Linked DNA regions of Homo sapiens: region 2 is linked to region 1. The links come from fine-mapping of genetic effects on gene expression. A gene starts in region 1. The other region holds a variant in brackets. All regions are shown on one strand. Distances are between the middles of the regions.

Region 1 (9,446 bases):
TATTAATACATGCATTCATAGTATAAATGCTTAATTTAAAATACTATCTATTCATGAATTCTCTAATTTTCTTAGTTTTTCCTTCATGATAAAGGAGAAACTTTCTTTACCTTTTCATTATAATTTCTAGGAAATTTCCTACACTTTATTTTCCCAAATTTTATTGCATTTTAAGTTTGGTTACTGCTTATTTATTTACTTATTTATTTATATTTTTGTTTTCTGATTGTCCCCTTATTATTATTATTTTTAAAGAATATCCACTTTTGTTTTATGGTGCACAATCTTTGCGTATCATTTGACTTTGTTTCCTTTAATTTCATTTTCTTTGTTTTGTTTCTATCTTTTATGTCTAGTGAACATTTACTGTCCTTATTTAGGAGAAAATTATGGAAAAAAGGATTAGGCAAAGCTTATTAACTATCAGGCTTCACTGTATAGTGATCCAGAAGCTGGATTTTCATTTGGTTGGAAGATGCCAAATGACAGTATCTTTTGTCTTGGAACCATTAAACGTCTGCAGATAAATATCCTTCAGTTTTCTGTCTGGGGGTTATTCATTTGATTATTGATGTTCTGGGAACCGGAGGAAAAGATGGCAGGGAAATTTTATCATTCATTATGTAGATTTTCACTTAGTCTCTCAAGTTCCAGCTGTATACTTCACTCCCTCCTTCTACCTTGCCTGGTGTTCCAAGTCTGGAGCCTCTGATTCAATTTCTCAAGAGATTAAACCTCTGTCAGGGCTGGGTTTGGGGTAGTGTTTAGCTTCTTGGGATGAGAGGGAGAGTATGGGTCCTTATTCTGCTCTCAACCATTCCCCTTATTTTTATCCTAGAGCCCCACCTCTGCCTTCCTGGTAACTCTTGCATCTGAGTCCTGAGGCTTTCTGGGGATCTTTGGGAGAAACAGATTTGTTTCTTGTTGTTACTTATCTCTGATGGTGTGTATGTTTTAGTTATTACGTCTCAATTCACTTTTCTCCTTCATTGACACTTCCAAATGCCTTGTCACCTCTCATCTGCAAGTTGGCTGTTTTCTCATTTTCTTTATCATTGTGAGTTTATACCTGAAAAAAATTAAAAGAAAAAACAAAAAACAAAAACCTTTCCTATCATGTTGGCAGAGTTTCCAGAGGGAGCAGAGGTAAATGCACATACTTGATCTACTTTGTTTATCAGGAAGCCCTAGCCCATATTTTTATTGAATTAGATTTCACTAAAGACAAGTTTCTGCAATTGGCTATTAGCAATCAACTTTTTTTGGTGACAAGACTGAATATTTAGGATTAAAAGTTTAAGGATGTTCATTTTATTTCCCAGCTAAAAAAGAATGTAGTAGCCCAGCATAGTGAATTTATAATCTTTGGATTTATTTCCTTGGATTTACTTATAACAATATGTTTGAAATGTGTTAAGTAGAAAAATTGGCAGAAGTGTATGTGTGTGTTTGCAACTGTGACAGCAAGGGAAACCGATGGAAGAAAAGAATGAATCCAAGAGAAAGCAGAATGTTAGATTTTGATTGGGACGGTGGTGGTGTTTCAGATCCATAGCCATATAAACATTTTAAATATCATCAATAATTTTTTAATAAGTACCTAAATTTGATGGTTGTTTTTTTAAACTGTCTAACGTTACAGACCATTCATCATCTATTTGTGTCTTAAGAATACTGCCCCAGTTTCGCTGTGGGTCCCTTTGAGTGAATGCATTTCTAGCTTTTGAGGCCACGCTATCTGTAGTTCTCATTATCTTGGTTGCTTTCAGAAGCCTCATATAAGCCAAAGGGTGAACAATAACCAGAGAACAGAGATTCTTAAATTAAGCAACTGAAAAGAGTCTGCTTTGGTTCATTAGCCCAAATAGGATCTTTTACTTTTTGAGTAGCAATCAAAAGATATTGGATCTATCATTTCTCTTGTTCTCTTAAAAAATCACTTAAATTTCCTTTAAACAATCTGGTGATGTGATGTCAGATTTTTGCCCATCATATTATAACATCATTGTTAAGTAGTATGAATGGAAATGAAACATACACCTCAAAATATCTAACGGTCCTGATATAAGGCTAAAGAAAACAAATAGTCTTTTCTTATCTTTCCCCTTGGATGAATTTAAAATAGATAATTCTTAACAGTTTCATCCTACTTCCGTAGGGTGAATTTTCCCCCAGTATGGCTTTGGAGTAAATTTTCACCTTTTTGCTAGATTTATGACTGCTATTACCAATACTATTAATTATTTCAGTATGATATAGCACTTCTAGGAGGCTGACCCTACTTAATTGGAAAAAAAGAAAATATGTTGGAGCTTTAACATTTCTTGATCATAGAAGGTACTGAAACATAACTCATGATTCTAGGCAAACTTTGCCATTGAGTTTTTGTGTGACCATATAAAATAATTTAAGTTTTCTGTGTCTACATTTGTAAAGTATATGACACTCAACTGTATAATGAGCTCACAGTCTAGTGAGCTTGATAGAAGATAAGCTAATCTGGGGTAGAAATCATGCTTTATTCATATTTGTTTTCTCTTGCTTAAATTCATAATAGTTACTCAGTAAGTGTTGACTAAAAGTGTTTGAGAGAGAAACAAAATACAAGGTGAGTGAAAATTCTGAGATCCTTGTGAGAATAATTCATATAAATTTAATATATTCAGCTTGATTCTAAAGGCAATGTTGAGAGGAGGCCCGTGGGGCTGCATGTTCTTCAGTGTAATGTGAAGTACTGAGCTGATTATAGTGGTTATTCAATTAAAAGATATGTATTTTAAAATTATTATTATACTTTAAGTTCTGGGATACATGTGCAGAACGTGCAGGTTTATTACATAGGTATACACGTGCCACGGTGGTTTGCTGCACCCATCATCCCGTCATCTACATTAGGTATTTCTCCTAATGCTATCTCTCCCCTAGCCCCCCACCCCACAACAGGCCCTGGTGTGTGATGTTCCCCTCCCTCTGTCCATGTGTTCTCATTGTTCAACTCCCACTTATGAGTATATTTTTAATGGGCAAGCTCTGCTCAAATACAGGCTACAGTCAGTATGTGACTGAGCTGTGATCTCTCTCGTCAAAGGGACTACAGCGCACCCTTTGAATTACCTTCACACTCACTGACGGTTTTAAGAGTTTGGCCACTTTCCCCACGTCTGAAAGCGACTCTACCTTAGATGTGAGAAAGATGCGGCTGACTTTGGCTGGCAGATGGAGAAGAATGGAAAAGCAGCAGACAGTGTTCATGCATGGCTGACACTAGAAAGAATTCTTCTGGATTTCACAGTCATTGAAATGAAAAGATGTGATCCAGAACAGGATCTTCCTTTTAACTGGTGTCTGCAGTGTTCTCTCCTCTGCTTCTTCACTCATTTCAAGAAGTCTCTAAGGGGCAGCCTGATGTGGAAAAGATGTTAAGGGAAGAAGAGGGCATCCTAATTCTAGGTTTGATAAGGACATTTTTGATACTGGTAAAACCCTGAAATTATGGAAATTATGATTTGTTCTGTATGCCAACGAGAATCGTGGTTTTCCTTTTGCTCTTTTCCTTGCGAAGGAGCCAACTCCTTCTGGATCTTTGTTTTTATTTTTTCCTCCTTAAGTCACTGCTGAGGTATTTTTAAACCAAGCCAACACGTATATTTTATTCACCGAAGGAAGAACAAAGCATCTGCTAATAGAAGCAGTGAAAAAAGCACAGCAGTCAGAGGCCTCGTGTCTAAAGCTCAGTTCATTACTCCTAACCTGCCATTGGCCAATATTTCAACCTTTCTGAGTTGCTCTTTCTCATCTGCAAAATGGGGTTAATGGAGGATTTCATCTGCAAGTGGGGATAAGAGACATGAAAAGAACTGACGCGAAATAAACACGAGTTGAATCCTAACAATAATATTTTGACTATGTAGTTACAACAAACTTTTCTTTCTTCTTTTTTTTTTTTTCTGTGAGAAGTGCCTTTGGTGGATTTTGAATTCTTTTTCATACTGCCTGTTCTTTGGTGGGACTCCAGCAACATTGCTGTAACTCGAGGATATATGGCTGCAATGTGTGTTTGGCTTCCTTTCTCAAGGGGGTCAAATAAAAAGGCAACTGTTTAGAGAAGGCACCAAAGTACAAAACAAAAATCTCAGAATATGCCAGCCAATCTTGGAAAGTCATCTGAAGAAGAAAAAGTGCTGCTGAGGAAGGAAAACGGCCCTTTTGTGGGCATCACTTCTGCTCTTCTGAAAAAAAGCCCCGATGCTGCAATATTTTTCAAGGCAGAATATCGTCCCAGATGGAGGAGGGAGCACTGACAAGCAGAAAAGGAGAGACGTGCGGTTTCGAGGCAGCGTCTGTAAGGGGTGGAGAGCGCGGGGCTCGGAGCCTCGCAGTTCTTTGTTGGGGGCGCGGGCTTCGTTATTCCCGAGGCAGCAATGGCTCCCCCTCGGAGGTCCCTCCGCGGAGACCGCCTCGCGCCTCTCGCAGTCCCCAATCCCCGCCCCTCCCAGCCCTCGCTGACCCCACAACGTGGTCGGACTGCGGTGCCTTTAAGGCTTTTGCCTGCTGCACATGCTCAGCTCTTTGTGTGTTGTTGGAGTTTTTCTCTCTTAAGAGAAAAAGAAGAAATAGGCAGGAGGATGGGGCGGAGGAAGGGGGAAGCGCTAGGGAAAAAGCGTTGCACTTTTGCAGCTGCAGACGGCGGACGGGAAGGACTTCTTTTCTGCTGAAGCTGCGAAGCCTGTGTCGATCTCTCATTCGTGGGGCTCCCGGGGCGCGGGGTGCGGGTGGGGCCGGGGTGCCCGCACCGGCCGGGGGGAAGGGCACGCGGGCCACACCTGGGGGGCCTGTCTCCAGTCAGCGCGCGGGCCAGGCGGGGTGGGCGCGCGCGCGTGGGGGAGTCCCCGGTCCCTGTCAGGGGCGGGGCGAGACCAAGGCGCCGGGCCTGTGGGGAGGAGTGTAGGCGCGCGCGAGGGCGGGGGGCGGCCCCACGCATCGTGGGCTCCCGGCGCTGCCGCTGCGGCCGGCTCGAGGCACCGGAGACAGAATGGCTGCCGGGGCGCCCTTGACCGCCGGGCGGGCGAGGCGGGGCTGACCGCCGCCTCCTTGATCGCCCCCTTCCACGTTGGGCGCGCCCACTTCGGGGCGCCCGCTCGGCCCCCGCCCTCCTGGGCGCGCGGCGCTCGGAGCCGAGGCAGTTGGCGCGGGCCGCGGGCGAGGCGGGGCCGCGCGCGGGGTCCCCTCCTCCTGCCGGTCAGGTCCCCTCAGGAGCGCCGGGCGCAGTCTGCGCCTCCCGCTCCCCGCCTCCGGCCGGGTCCGGGACGCCGCGGCTGTGGGGTCGGCCCGCTAAGGACAAGGTCGGGAGACTGGGTGGCGATGCCCGAGTGCGACTGGAGGCAGCCGAGCGGAGGCGACGGCGGTTGGGATCTGTCCCTCCTGACCGGGGAGCGGGACTCGGACGGGCGCCGGTGAGGAGGAGGAGAAGCGGCGGCGGAGAGGTTTTCTGCGGCCGGAATTCCCTTCAACAGCATCCCTGTCGGCGCCCGCGAGCGCAGTCTCGCCGGGCAGGGGCGCCGGGGAAGATGGAGACTGGGGGCCGGGCCCGCACTGGTACCCCGCAGCCAGCGGCCCCGGGGGTGTGGAGGGCTCGGCCGGCGGGCGGCGGCGGCGGGGGCGCCTCCTCCTGGCTGCTGGACGGGAACAGCTGGCTGCTGTGCTATGGCTTCCTCTACCTGGCGCTCTACGCGCAGGTGTCCCAGTCCAAGCCGTGCGAGAGGACCGGCTCCTGCTTCTCGGGCCGCTGTGTCAACTCCACCTGCCTCTGCGACCCGGGCTGGGTGGGGGACCAGTGCCAGCACTGCCAGGGCAGGTTCAAGTAAGTGCCTTCGCCGGACCCCGAACCTCCAGCCCTGCCTCGCTCCCGTCGCGGCCTTCCCCGCCCCCCTCGCGGCCTCCCCCGCCCCCGTCGCTGCCTCTGATCCCCCGGCCGTGAGTGAACCTCAGCGCGCGGCGGGAGCGGGCGAGAGTGGGGCCCGCGCCGCGCCCCCTCCAGCCCCGGGGCGCCCCGGGAGAGCTCGGGCCCGCGCGGAGCCCTGACCAACGGGGAGCTAGGCATTTCTCGAGCGTTCCAGATGTCCGCAGCGACTTCTGATCCGCTGCTCAGCACGAACATTTTCACAATCAGTTATGATGCCCAGCACCATTTTCTTGGGATAATATTTAAAAATCAGAAATTGTCCAAGTTACTTATGAAATACATGCGCATTGTGAAAAATTCACAAAAGTGTAAAGGTTCAGTTATGATCTATGAGTGCCTCTCTCTTTCCCCATTCTCTTCTCTCTAGAGGTGACCCCTTCTAACATTTATTTAGTCATCATAGTGATGTTAATAAGTAGAGTTTATGATGGACTTGCTAAGTGCCAAACACTCTTCTAAGCGCTTTATGTCAATTTTCTCATTTATTCCCTACAACAACTCTGTGAGTTGCTAGAATTATTATGCTGGATTTACGGAGAGAAATCGAGGCGATACATTGAAGTAACTTGGCCAGGATTACACAGTAGTAAGGGCCGAGTTATGATTCCAAATCAGCTGGCACATTCTGGAGCCAGTACACACTCCAGAATGTGTACTTTTAACGAATTTGCTGTGTTGTATTTGCTAGGACAATCTTGAATTGAGAAATACAAAGGTGACTTTAGGTTAGATAGAAGGACGTTTTTATGTGGTGAGGATAATGGATTTTTTTCTGATCGGTTAATTCACTGTCAGCTTTTGTGCGGGAACATCGCTTTGGCTTGTTTGAAGCTCAAGGAGCCTAAGAAGTTTGCTTGCTAAGGTGAAGGTACTTTCTTCGTACTGGTTGGTGTTTATTACATTCTTGCCTGATATAAAAAGCAATGGGTCACAGTGTAGGGGAGTAGCAAAAGTCACTTAATATTGGGGCAGGCTTCTAACAACATGCAGGTAACAGTCATTAAGAAAGTCAGCTTCTTAGTCTTCTAGATACTTAATATGAAGTTTGCTGGCTGGTTTGTGGCTCTTGAATATTGTAGATTACTGATATTGTTAGGCTGATAGCCAAAATCTAGGTGAAATTTCTCTTGGGCTCTAAGGCAAAGGTAAGACTGGTTCACCTTATTAATGTATTCTAGGACAATTTCCTGGAATTTTAAACACAGCATACTTTCCTTTTTTTTTTTTTTTAAAAAAAAACTTACTATTACTGATTAAAATAAATGTCCCTTAAAACTCAATGTAAAAATGTATATTTTTAAAATGGCACTTTAAAATTTTAGGTAGAGTCTATGATTTAAATTAACTAGTAGGTTTTGGAAGTGAAATCTTAAAGTGAAGTTTTATGAAACTTATGCAATAGGTTGAAATTTTTCTAGGGTTTATACTTTAAAGGTAGTATAGTAATGTAGTTTTAAAAATACTTTTTAAAAAAATTAGGAGAGATGCTGATTAAAAGTTTAAAAAGTGTTTCAAGATGAGGAAAGAGATCTTAATGAATTCTGCTTGTTAGTTGTTTTTTTTTGCTTGTGTTCTTAAACGTTTGCTATGACAGTAGAATTCAGCGTCTTTACCTAGCAAGAGAGAATTTTGAACATGTAAACTGGTAGTCAGCAGTGAAAAAGCCTCATCCATTTTTTACATTTTTTTTACATAAATAGGGAGAGTGCCTGATTTATATGTAGGGATATTGGCTTTTGTGTGGGTGGGTTTGCTCCGTTTGTCTAAAGAGGACAAAATTTGCTGCAGTCCTGAGAAGCTTCATTTTAAAGTAGCGGAACTTGTTAATCAGCTGGATCAGCAGCCTGTGACCTCACTAGCAGATGTTGTCCCAGTTAAAAAGATCACAGATCAAGTTAAAACTAGCTTAAATAACATTGAGAGGTGGTGTTCATAAACAAAATACATTAGTGAGTAGAAGAAGAATAGATATTTGATGTAGATATTGTTAAATAACAATAAATCCTGAGCTAATCACTGAGTATTCATCTTTTCCTTGGAAGCTATTATTTCCTAGGACTCATTGTACTCTATTGGGTAAATGCTTTTGCATTTCTCTGTGGAATACAAGCTATTAATTAGAGTAAATATAACTGGTGTAACGATCTGTGTTTTTATTATGTATACTCTTGGGGATAAAGAACACATTGGTATTTAATGTTAAAGAGAAGGATTATGTATAGTAGAAAAGAATTCTTCTTGGTAAAGTACATGCAAATAAACCTATGAAAGGTTTATTTGAAGATAGTAGCTTGTTTTACCTGGCATTTGAAGTAATAACACAGTGGGAAAGGCTTTAACTAGAAAATCTCACTTCACTAACTATCTTGAAAATCTTTTTCTAAACTGAAGGATAGCAACCTTACAAACAGACATTAAAAATGATTGATCAATCTTGGTAAGCAGGTGTCAAAATTAATTGGTTGGCTCCATGGTAACTTAGCTTTTTTTCTACTATAGGGATTTCGCCAGGGAATAAAAATGTTCTTCAAATGTTTCTTGAGGATAGAAGATTGATAGTTGGGGGAAGAAATGCAGAAGCAAATATAGTATCAAAAGTGGTACTTCAGTTCTCTTAGCATTGATTCCAGTCTTCTGTTTCCATTTGAAAAGAATAAAGCACTCAGAATAACAAGCCATTCCTTCCTTACACAGGTAAAACAAAAGGAACATTGATTTTTCACCCAAAGCTAGACTAAAGGACTTGGGATTGAGAATAGGAAAATATATTTGAAATATAATAATCAAAGATACAGACTCTAATTCAAGTTGTATTTATTTGAATAGTTCAGTGTAATGTTAAGCAAGAAAATATTCTGCTATAATCTATTTGAATGACGTTCTCTTTTAGAAGGGAGCCCTTGAGAATTAATTTTGTAGAGTAGAGATTTATATAAATTTATATAAATATAAAGAGTATTGCTCTTTATATTAGTCAAATATAAAGGGGTATATTTTTACCCCTCTTAGGTTAGTCAAATTTGGATACTTCATTTCACGCATTTAAAATGGAAGTATGCTGGGTGCCGTGGCTCAGGCCTGTAATCCCAGCACTTTGGGAGGCCGAGGTGGAAGGATCCCTTGAGCCCAGAAGTTTGAGACCAGTCTGGGCAAGATAGTGAGACCTCATCTCTACAAAAAATATTTTAAAAGTAGCTGGGCATGGTGGCACACACCTGTGGTCACAGCTACAAGAGAGAGTGAGGCGGAAGAATTCCTTGAGCTCAGGAGGTTGAGGCTGCAGTGAGCTGTAATCACGCCACTGCGCTCCAGCTTGGGTATCAGAGCGAGACTCTTCTTAAAAATTTATATATACATATATGAAGCATTCTATTTGTAGTGACAGCAAAATGAAGATGTAATGATATAATGTCAGGAATTAGGTTGTTATTATAGACAAAAACGGGCAGAATAAAGTGTGTAAACTCTTCCCCTAAGCTGTTAA
Region 2 (9,446 bases), 93 kb before region 1:
CCCTTCCTGAACTCCTAGCACCTACAGGGACTCCATCCCTTGTGCCCCACATACCTCACACGTAGACATTCCTAATGAAGATTTGATTGAATTATTGTAAACTCAGTGCCTCCCACTCTTCTAGTTGCCTCTCTGCCTGCCTTTGTACATTTATTTATTTATTTATTTATTTATTTATTTATGAGACAGAGTCTTACTGTATCACCCAGGCTGGAGTTTAGTGGCACCATCTCAGCTCACTGCAACCTCTACCTCCCAGACTCAAGCAATCCTCCCACCTCAGCCTCCCGAGGAGCTGGGACCATAGGCACGTGCCACTATGCCCGGTTAATTTATTGTAATTTTTGTAGAGATGGGGTTTCATCGTGTTGCCCAGGCTAGTCTTGAACTCCTGGACTCAGGCGATTCGCCCGTCTCAGTCTCCCAAAGTGCTGGGATTATAGGCGTGAGCCACCATGCCCAGCCGCTAGCACTCATCTTAATCGTATATTTACTTATCTGGCTTTCCCACCAGACTGCGGGCTCTTCAAGAGTAAATGCCATGTTTTCACCTTTATTTCCCCAGTTTGTGGCACATTCTAGGCACTCGCCATCATGAAATAAACCTCTGGAGCTGTGATATTACAAACGTGAAAAGATGACGAGCACTCAGCAACTTTCAGTGAGTAAACAAAGGCTTTCATTCAGCATGTATTTATTGACTGCCCTGACTCTGGGCTGCCTTCCTGTCTGTGGTTCAAGGAGAGCATAGTCTACAGAACCAGAGACCTGGCTACTCTGGAAGTTAGACTTAAGCCCACCCCGGTCCTTGAATGGGGAAATATTTCCCTTCATTCCTGTGTTTTAGGGACAGAAAGATGAGTAATGCAGTGATACATGCTGGAAATGTTTATTCCACTACCCGAAGCTGCCTCTCAACTTAACAATCCATGAAAGAAACAAGATGGTATATAACTTTTTCTAATTTGTGATGCCTTTGTTTATTTGTTTCCGGTTAAAAGAGGAGGTGGCATTGAATTGTTTGTTTGGTTTGGTTTCTTCTTCAATAAGAAGCATCTTAATATAACTAGACTGGACATCTGTCCCATTTTCAAAAATTACAAGTTTCGATCATTGCTAAATTGTACAGATCCCAATCTGTCTGCTCTGCATACATTTGCATTTATAAAAGCAGAAGCAGACTAGCAGTCTTTCTAATGCAATCCCCCAAATGCATGAAGTATTAGATTGCTTCTCCCTATTGGTTCATGCATTGCTAAAGGCTTAAAAGGATCATTGATTTTAATTATTTAATGTGTACAGCAGGCTGAGCTTCCTTTCTTTTTTAAGGGAAGAACCTTCAGGGGCATTGCTTTAGTTTTTTAATGTTAAATCTCATTTTTCTTTGAAAATAAGAAGTTAAAGCTGTATTCACACAAGCTCTCAAAGTGCCAGATTTTCATTGTGTTTTTAAACCATCTAGGAAATGTTTGATTCTAATGAAACATTACTGCTGAAAATTGGGCTGAAATTGCTGGGCTGAAAATATTGTTATAACTTCACATGATTCCAGTGTTGTATTATTATTTTTTCTTTTTCTTTTTTTGACCCGATATAGATGAAGCGAAGAGACAAGGAGCAATCCAATGTGTAATAAAAAAAGGCAGCCTGAATTGTTGTTGCTGTTTTTGAAATTTAAGCTGGTTTTCAATTAAATTCAGTAAATGGTCCAGGACTATAAATGTTGAACATTTTTTACCGTGTAATTTAAATTTTAGTCTTATTGTTTTTTTTTTGGTTTTTTTTTTTTTTGATGGTTTACATTTTCCCCATGGAAAGCAGCTATGTCATGTCGGCATGATTCATCATGGTAACATCTCGGGTTATTTTGGTTTGTGTTATGTTCAGAAAGCGGAATGCCAAAAATAAAGAGTGGTTTGTGATGTCTAGTGTGTCTTCCTTTAACAAATCAAAGGCTTTTATTTAATCCACTTAATGGGACACTGCAGAAATTTAAAAAATGGAAGTCCCATCCACAGAAGGCAGGTACTATGATGTAAAAAGTTTAGGTGGGGGATTAATAGAGTGATCATATAATTTATGAGCTAAACCGGAGGCACTTTTTTTTTTGAGATCGAGTCTCACTGTTGCCTAGGCTGGAGTGCAGTGACGTGATCACAGCTCACTGCAACCTCCGCCTCCCGGGTTCAAGCGATTCTCATGCCTCAGCCTCCTGAGTAGCTGGGACTATAGGCGCCCACCACCATGCCCAGCTAATTTTTGTGTTTTTTGTAGAGATGGGGTTTCACCATGTTGGCCAGGCTTGTCTCAAACTCCTGACCTCAGGTGATCCGCCCACCTCGACCTCCTAAACTGCTGGGATTACAGGCGTAAGCCACCATGCCTGGCCCAGAGACACTTTTGAGAGTGAAGAGGAAGCTGAGAATAATTCACTGATCTACAACTGGGACCATCCAGGGCAAGCCAGATGCCATTACCACTAGCTAGAAAGCTTGCCAAGGTCTCATTTACCTTGGTATATAGCAAATTCTTCTTTGAATTCTGGAAATTCTGGTAAGTCATTGAGGTAGCTCTGTGCCAAGGAGCAATATGGTAGAATTCTAATATTTCAGGCAGTACAACACTTTCCTGCATTTGTAGCAGGTAAAGGGAGGTCAGGGCAGAAGACAAAACCACTGGGACTCGACAAAGGGCATAAACGTCTAATGCACCTGATGTAGCTGATGGTAAATTGTTATCAGCTAAAGATCTTTCATAATAAATAAACTTATCATTTGTAGGAGGGCACAGAAATCGTGGAAAGCTGGGATTCAGGTTGCCTGTGGCTTTAATTCTGGAATCAGAAATATTAGTCAAGGATATCAGTCTATGAAGTAAGTTTTCAATGTTATATGCCACAAGATGCAGCTGTCCTATTTTCACTTCCAGTAATTCCTTCTGAATTAATACACCTTAAAAATAGCTGCAGCTTCTCAAATCTGTGAGAATCGTATGTGCTGCTTGCTACACTTTCCTTTTTCCTGAAGGCCTCTTTGAGGTCTTTCAAGAACTCAATTCAATTCAGCAACAATTAGGGGGTCTAAGGTATACAGACGCTGTGCAAGATGCTCCTGAGACACAAAGAGGAGGTCAAGCCCCTGCCTTCAGGCACCTCTCTATAATATAGGAGGAGAAAGAGAAGAAACACTAATACACATAGGTAGGTGCCATTAAAAGGGTGCATACATTAAAGCCAGGTGGTAGGTGTAAGAAGATTTGTAACATGAGAATTTTCTGCATGTTTGAAATATCTTATAATTTTTAAAAATTAAAATGGGAGATACATATATATGTATTTATGTATGTATATATGTATGTACATATACACACATATATACATAAATATATACATAAATATGTATATATGTGTATATAGACATAAATATGTATATATGTGTATATAGACATAAATATGTATATATGTGTATATAGACATAAATATGTATATATGTGTATATAGACATAAATATGTATATATGTGTATATAGACATAAATATGTATATATGTGTATATAGACATAAATATGTATATATGTGTATATAGACATAAATATGTATATATGTGTATATAGACATAAATATGTATATATGTGTATATAGACATAAATATGTATATATGTGTATATAGACATAAATATGTATATATGTGTATATAGACATAAATATGTATATATGTGTATATAGACATAAATATGTATATATGTGTATATAGACATAAATATGTATATATGTGTATATAGACATAAATATGTATATATGTGTATATAGACATAAATATGTATATATGTGTATATAGACATAAATATGTATATATGTGTATATAGACATAAATATGTATATATGTGTGTATATAATAATGTGTGTACATATACACACATATATACATACATAAACATTCTGCATTATACCATTCACTTTGTAACCCATCTTCCCTAAAAACTGTCTCATAAAGAGTCTTCTTTTCCCTGTACCTATGCAATGGTAAGTAGCAAAACACACATTCTTTTGGGTCCCCATAACATTCCCTGTAGTTTGCCCTTAACAGTCTTTGATGTGAAATTTACTGTTTCTGTCTTAACCTTGCCTGTCTCGCGTACATGGAGTTTTGGCTCCTGGCTCCTAGTCTGCATCTTCACCCCATCCCTTGCCCAAAGAATCTGGTTATGTGACCACTGCTCATCTTTTCTGCTGCCACAACTCCAGTCCAAGCCACAAACCTCTCTCTCCTGGACTCCTGCGGGGAGTTCCTTTCTCTCCCTGCATGAGTCTATTCTCCGCACAACTGGCAGAGGTAAGTGAGACTGCGGAAGAGGCAAGTTTGCAAGTCCAGAGGAAATGAAGACTCTGCTTGTGCACATGCTGGGTTTGACGGGTGCTGGATATCCGATGGATGGCCCTTAAGGTGAGCTCAAGGCTTAAGGGAGAGATAGGGGCTGATGATCTGAGATTCATCAGTGTGTGGCTGATGTTTAAACCCAGGGGACAGGATAAGAAGGTTATTCCAGGGAGAGCGTAGATAAAGAAGCTAAATGGCTTCTGGGTCCTTAGTCATTCAAAATCGGACCTCTGAGGCAGGAGGAAAGCCCAGAAAGAGTAGATTCCTGGGACTCACGGGATAAAGACTTTCAAAAAGTGGGGGCTGGCCAGTGCTGCTGAAGGAAGTAGCAGGACCGGAACAGAAGGGTAATCGTTGGACCTGGAGAACTTGAATTTGAATTTTAAGGTTGGTAACCTTAAAAAAGAGCAATTTTAGATACCTTTTGAAATTATTTGCAAGATTTGTTTGGTATATGTGTTATTCCAGGCAAAGGGACCAGAAAAGTAAAAAATACTTACTGAACAGTTACTGCATGCCTGGCACTGTAACACCCTGTTTAATTCTCACGGCAACCCTATAGAGTAGGTGTCATCATCCCCATCTTACAGATGAGGATATGAGGTGCAGCTAGATTAAGCAGTTTGCCTCAGGTTACACCAACTGGTTAACGTAGAGCTAGGATTTGAACCCGGATGGGCTGATCCCAGAGCTCATGCTTTAAATCGCTAGACTGGTGCTCACAGAAGACTGGGACCGAAAAAAATTAATAAAAAAAATAAGGAGCCCCCTGGGCTAGCAAATTAGGAGTTGTTCAGACAGATGTGAAAAGGAAAGCAAGGCAGAGGGAAAGTCACTGTACAGAAGAGAGAGACCCATGACAGCAGAGACAGTGAGCTGGTAAAGTGGCTGGCGATCTAGCCCCTGAAAATACCTCCAGAGAGGCAGGCTCACGCCTGTAATCCCAGCACTTTGGGAGGCCGAGGTGGGCAGATCACCTGAGGTCAGGAGTTTGAGACCAGCCTGGCCAATGGCGAAATCCCGTCTCTACTAAAAATACAAAAATTAGCCGAGCATGGTGACAGGCACCTGTAATCCCAGCT[G/A]TTCAGTTGGCTGAGTCAGGAGAATAGCCTGGATCCGGGAAGTGGAGGTTGTAGTAAGCCAAGATTGCGCCACTGCATGCCAGCCTGGGCGACAGAGCAAGACTTTTCTTAAAACAAACAAACAAAAAAGAAAAAAGAAAAGGAAAGAAGAAAGAGACAAAGAAAGAAAGAGAGAAGGAAAGAAAGGAAGGAAGGAAGAGAAGGAAGGAAGGAAAGAAAGAAAAGGAAAGAAAGAAAAAGAAAGAAGAAAGAAAGGAAAGAAAAGAAAGAAAAAGAAAGAAAGAAAATACCTCCAGAGAGCCAGGTCTCTTAGGCCTTCTGAGAAACTCACATCCCTTTTGATGAACACAAATGCTTCACACTCTCAATGTTATTGGTAATCCAAGTTATCAATATACCTAAATCACTTAGTACTGAATCTGGCATATAGTAATCACCTAATGAAGAGATAAGAGTCATGGAGTATTCTGAAGCAATTAGAATCAATAGACTCAATATACACATGGCAACAAAGTTGGATCTTAAAAACCGACCTGAGTGAAAAAGGAAAGGGAAAGATACATAACACGGTACCATTATGTAAATTGATAATATATGCTTACACAATTTGTAAGAACACATACAAATAGATACATGTATATTAAACATACTCGAACGGTTACCCTATGGGGTGGTGGCTGGAGTGGGGGTAAGTCCGTAAGCTGTAATGGAACCTAAACAAATACATGAAACGAGTAGGAATCAGAAGGAGTAACAATAAAAATGTGCCATGAACTGAGGAGTGTAAATTAATCAACTCACTGCATCTGAGGTTAAAAATAGAAAGATGATAATTGTTATTCTTATTACTCCTAGGTCTTCCACTTGCACTCAGCTTTACAATGTTGGACTATCCTTCAGATGGCACCCTCCTTGCACTTGCTCAGGCAGGAGAGCTTTTTCCTCCAGCTTTCTAGGTGATTTAATATATCAGGGAATAAGTATAAAAAAAGGCACGGTGCTCCCTGGGTAGCCTTTCTGGACTTCAGAGCTAAATTGCAAAGTCAGTTTTACACATGTGATTTCATCTATGAAATTAGGGCAAGGTAGAAAACTGGCACAGAAAAAATGTGATTTATTATGGTGTTACTATCCCTTACAAGCGGAGTGTCAGCTGCCTCTTTTTGTCCACTGATTTAAGGCAAGATGAACTGAAAGTGGCTATGATCACGTCTTCAAAAGCACACTCTGGCCCCTCGGCTGCAGGCGCCCTGCACATTCCCCAGCTGCGTGTCCGGTGGTGACACAGTGCATAATTGTGGCGCCTTCCTGGTGCAAACTGTCTCACTTAGCTCCGTCTTGCTGGCACAGCAGAAAGGAAGAAATCGAAAATGTTTGGATTTCAAAGGTAACAAGAAGCTGGAAAACAACTACTGGCCGAGTCTGAGAGTTTCAGCGGAGACTGGTGCAGCCTTGTGTTTTTCCACTGACAGCTGAAAATGAGCCCAGCTTCAGTGAAGCTTGTTTCCTTCCCTCCTCAAGGTTACCCACAATTCTCAGTTCTCTCAGGAAAGCCAAAAAATGAATTTGAGGGTTTAGGATTGTGGTTCTTTTATCTATTACAGGATTGATAATATGTTCCTCCACCAGATGTTCTGCTTGTAACAATACTCACTTCCTGACACTACTGCATATGCAGGAGTGTTACTACCAAGGTAAACACAGAATTGGCTGCCCAATTCCAAATCCCTGAACTGAGTGAGAGAAATCAGAATTATAATAGGGGATTCAACAGAGCTGGCTACGGATGTGCCAGTGGTCAGATACTTTGCTCATCATACGCAGGTGCTGCTGCTCTAGCAACTGCTCACTGCTTCATTTCCTGCCTTGGTCTTTAAATACTGCTTTTCTCAGCTCAATTGGCTTTCTTCCCTCTGGCAGTCACGTTTCTTTGGGTCAAACAGCAAATGATTCTTTAGAATCACCTGGTACTCAAAGGAGCTACAAGACATTGGGCATCCACTTCCACTCTCTTGGAAAAACAATTTTATGGAAGCCAAGGTTGCCATAGTGCCTCTTGAGGTTGTTTGCTCAGCCAAGGCCCAAGCTTTGTGCTTCAAACATGAAATTAGAGAGCTTCAGAACAAGATCCACATTTTCAATGGCCTCACCCAACTGGATAAAAGAACAATTGCCATATCTCAATGACCACCTTTTCTCAGGTGGGATGGTAGATGCTGGAATGGGTCACAGCATTGCCCAACCAAACTTTGCAAAAAAGGCTGGAAGCTCTGACTGGGGACCCTAAATATGCAAAAGTTAATAGGCTCTTCATGCAGAATATGAACCCCGTGTATGGATATAGCTAAAGGGTTGGCCTTTATGTTTCTATTCCTTCACAAACCTGGTAGAATAGATATGCTTGTTTCCCTTTAAAAAATGTCAACAATTGCATTTATGATGCTGTGTATAGTAACTCACAGATCATGCTCCATGAAAATGCTTCAGAACCCAATATAAGGAGATTTTTTAGCCATGTGTGACAAAAGAGAGGCCATTTCAGTGTTGAAATTCTTCAGAGAAGTATTTGATTATGTTTTCTCAGATCTTTTTATTTTTATTTTTTTTGAAACAGAGTCTCACTTTGTCACCCAGGCTGGAGTACAGTGGCTGTGGTCTCGGCTCACTGCAACCTCTGCCTCCCAGGTTCAAGCGATTCTCCTGTCAGCTTCCCGAATAGCTGGGATTACAGGCGCATGCACCACCATGCCTAATTTTTGTATTTTTAGTAGAGACAGAGTTTCGCCATGTTGACCAGGCTTGCCTTGAACTCCTGACTTCAGGTGATCCACCCACCTCAGCCTCCCAAAGCACTGGGATTACAGGCATGAGCCACCGTGCCCAGCCTGTTTTCTCAGATCCTGTATTTTGTTTCTGAAGCCTTCATTTCTATCTTCTTATTCATTTTGGAAGTAGTACACCTAAGTAAGGTTTTTAACAATCAAATATCTTTGGAAAATTCCCTGGTTCCTTTCTTATTCCTACAAAAATATGTTCAGTATAGCTGATGTTATGTTTCTTTCAAATTATTCATTTCTCTATCTCAGAATTTATCTCATGCCTAATTGTTATTGAATAGTCTTCACTTCTTGTCATCCAGTTTCTGGTCTCTTATTTCACTCTAAGTCTAATTGGCTATTAGAATAAAGAGCTTGTAACAGATTCTTTCTCCAATATGTCTTATCTTTTGACTGCATGCCAGTGACAAACTGTTAACTGTTTTGATTCTTCATAACATTCCACAGAACATGCTGACTCCTCTCTTCCTGAAAGCAATGCCCAAGCACAGCATTGTTAGATAGTATGTACGCAACAGGGACATGGGTGCATAGCAAAAACTAGAAGGAAGGAGGACCTTCCTTAGCAATGGGTGATATGGTCCCTGGACTTAGACTCCAAAGGGTCGTGAGGTGAAACACACATCGTCCATACCCAGGAAGCACACAGGTGGGATGGAAGAGCTGTGCCTAATGAAACTTCATCCACGTGGAGGTGGAGGAGGCTGCAGCTGCAAGAACTCAGAGCTGCCTTACCCAGACCAGGGACCAGGGAGGGCTTTCTGGAGGAAACAGCCTCTGAACTGCCAGCTGATAGAGGAGCTCTACCTCAACTCTTCTGGTTCCCCAGGGCTGCTTTTCCACGTCCATTTATTGGCACTGAAGTTTGAATACCTTCAGGGGCCCGAAAGCCTGCCAGGTCCTCTTCTCTGCAGAGCAATCACACCAACCTGCAAAGGGCTAGGAAAGGGCTGTCATCATCTCCTACTCAGAAACTGGTTCACTGGAAGGACTCAGGGGCCACTGAATACATCCTGGCAGCTTTCACAAGAAGGGCTTCTGACTCAAGGATGTTTCCATCTTTGCCAGGTCGCCTTTTCTCCTTCTCTTAGAGTTTGGAGGACGCAAATGTGCTGAGAAGTCAACCTTTCCTGCAAGGTGAGACACAAGGGC

Evidence for each region.
Region 2: its variant is fine-mapped to the expression of ATRNL1 in skeletal muscle (GTEx, PIP 0.92).

What each region holds. Positions count from the first base shown.
Region 1 is chr10:115,088,184-115,097,629 of GRCh38, forward strand. It overlaps ATRNL1 (attractin like 1), which reads left to right and starts at 5,182. Exons shown (of 29, transcript NM_207303.4): 1 at 5,182-5,860. The coding sequence starts at 5,568. RefSeq lists silencers at 4,713-5,222, 5,253-5,382, 5,473-5,752.
Region 2 is chr10:114,994,878-115,004,323 of GRCh38, forward strand. It overlaps LINC02626 (long intergenic non-protein coding RNA 2626), which reads left to right. Exons shown (of 3, transcript NR_120677.1): 2 at 566-661; 3 at 1,598-1,716. Among named protein-coding and RNA genes, the nearest start is that of LINC02626, 4.9 kb to the left of the region's middle. The variant G/A (reference allele first, on the strand shown) is at 5,458.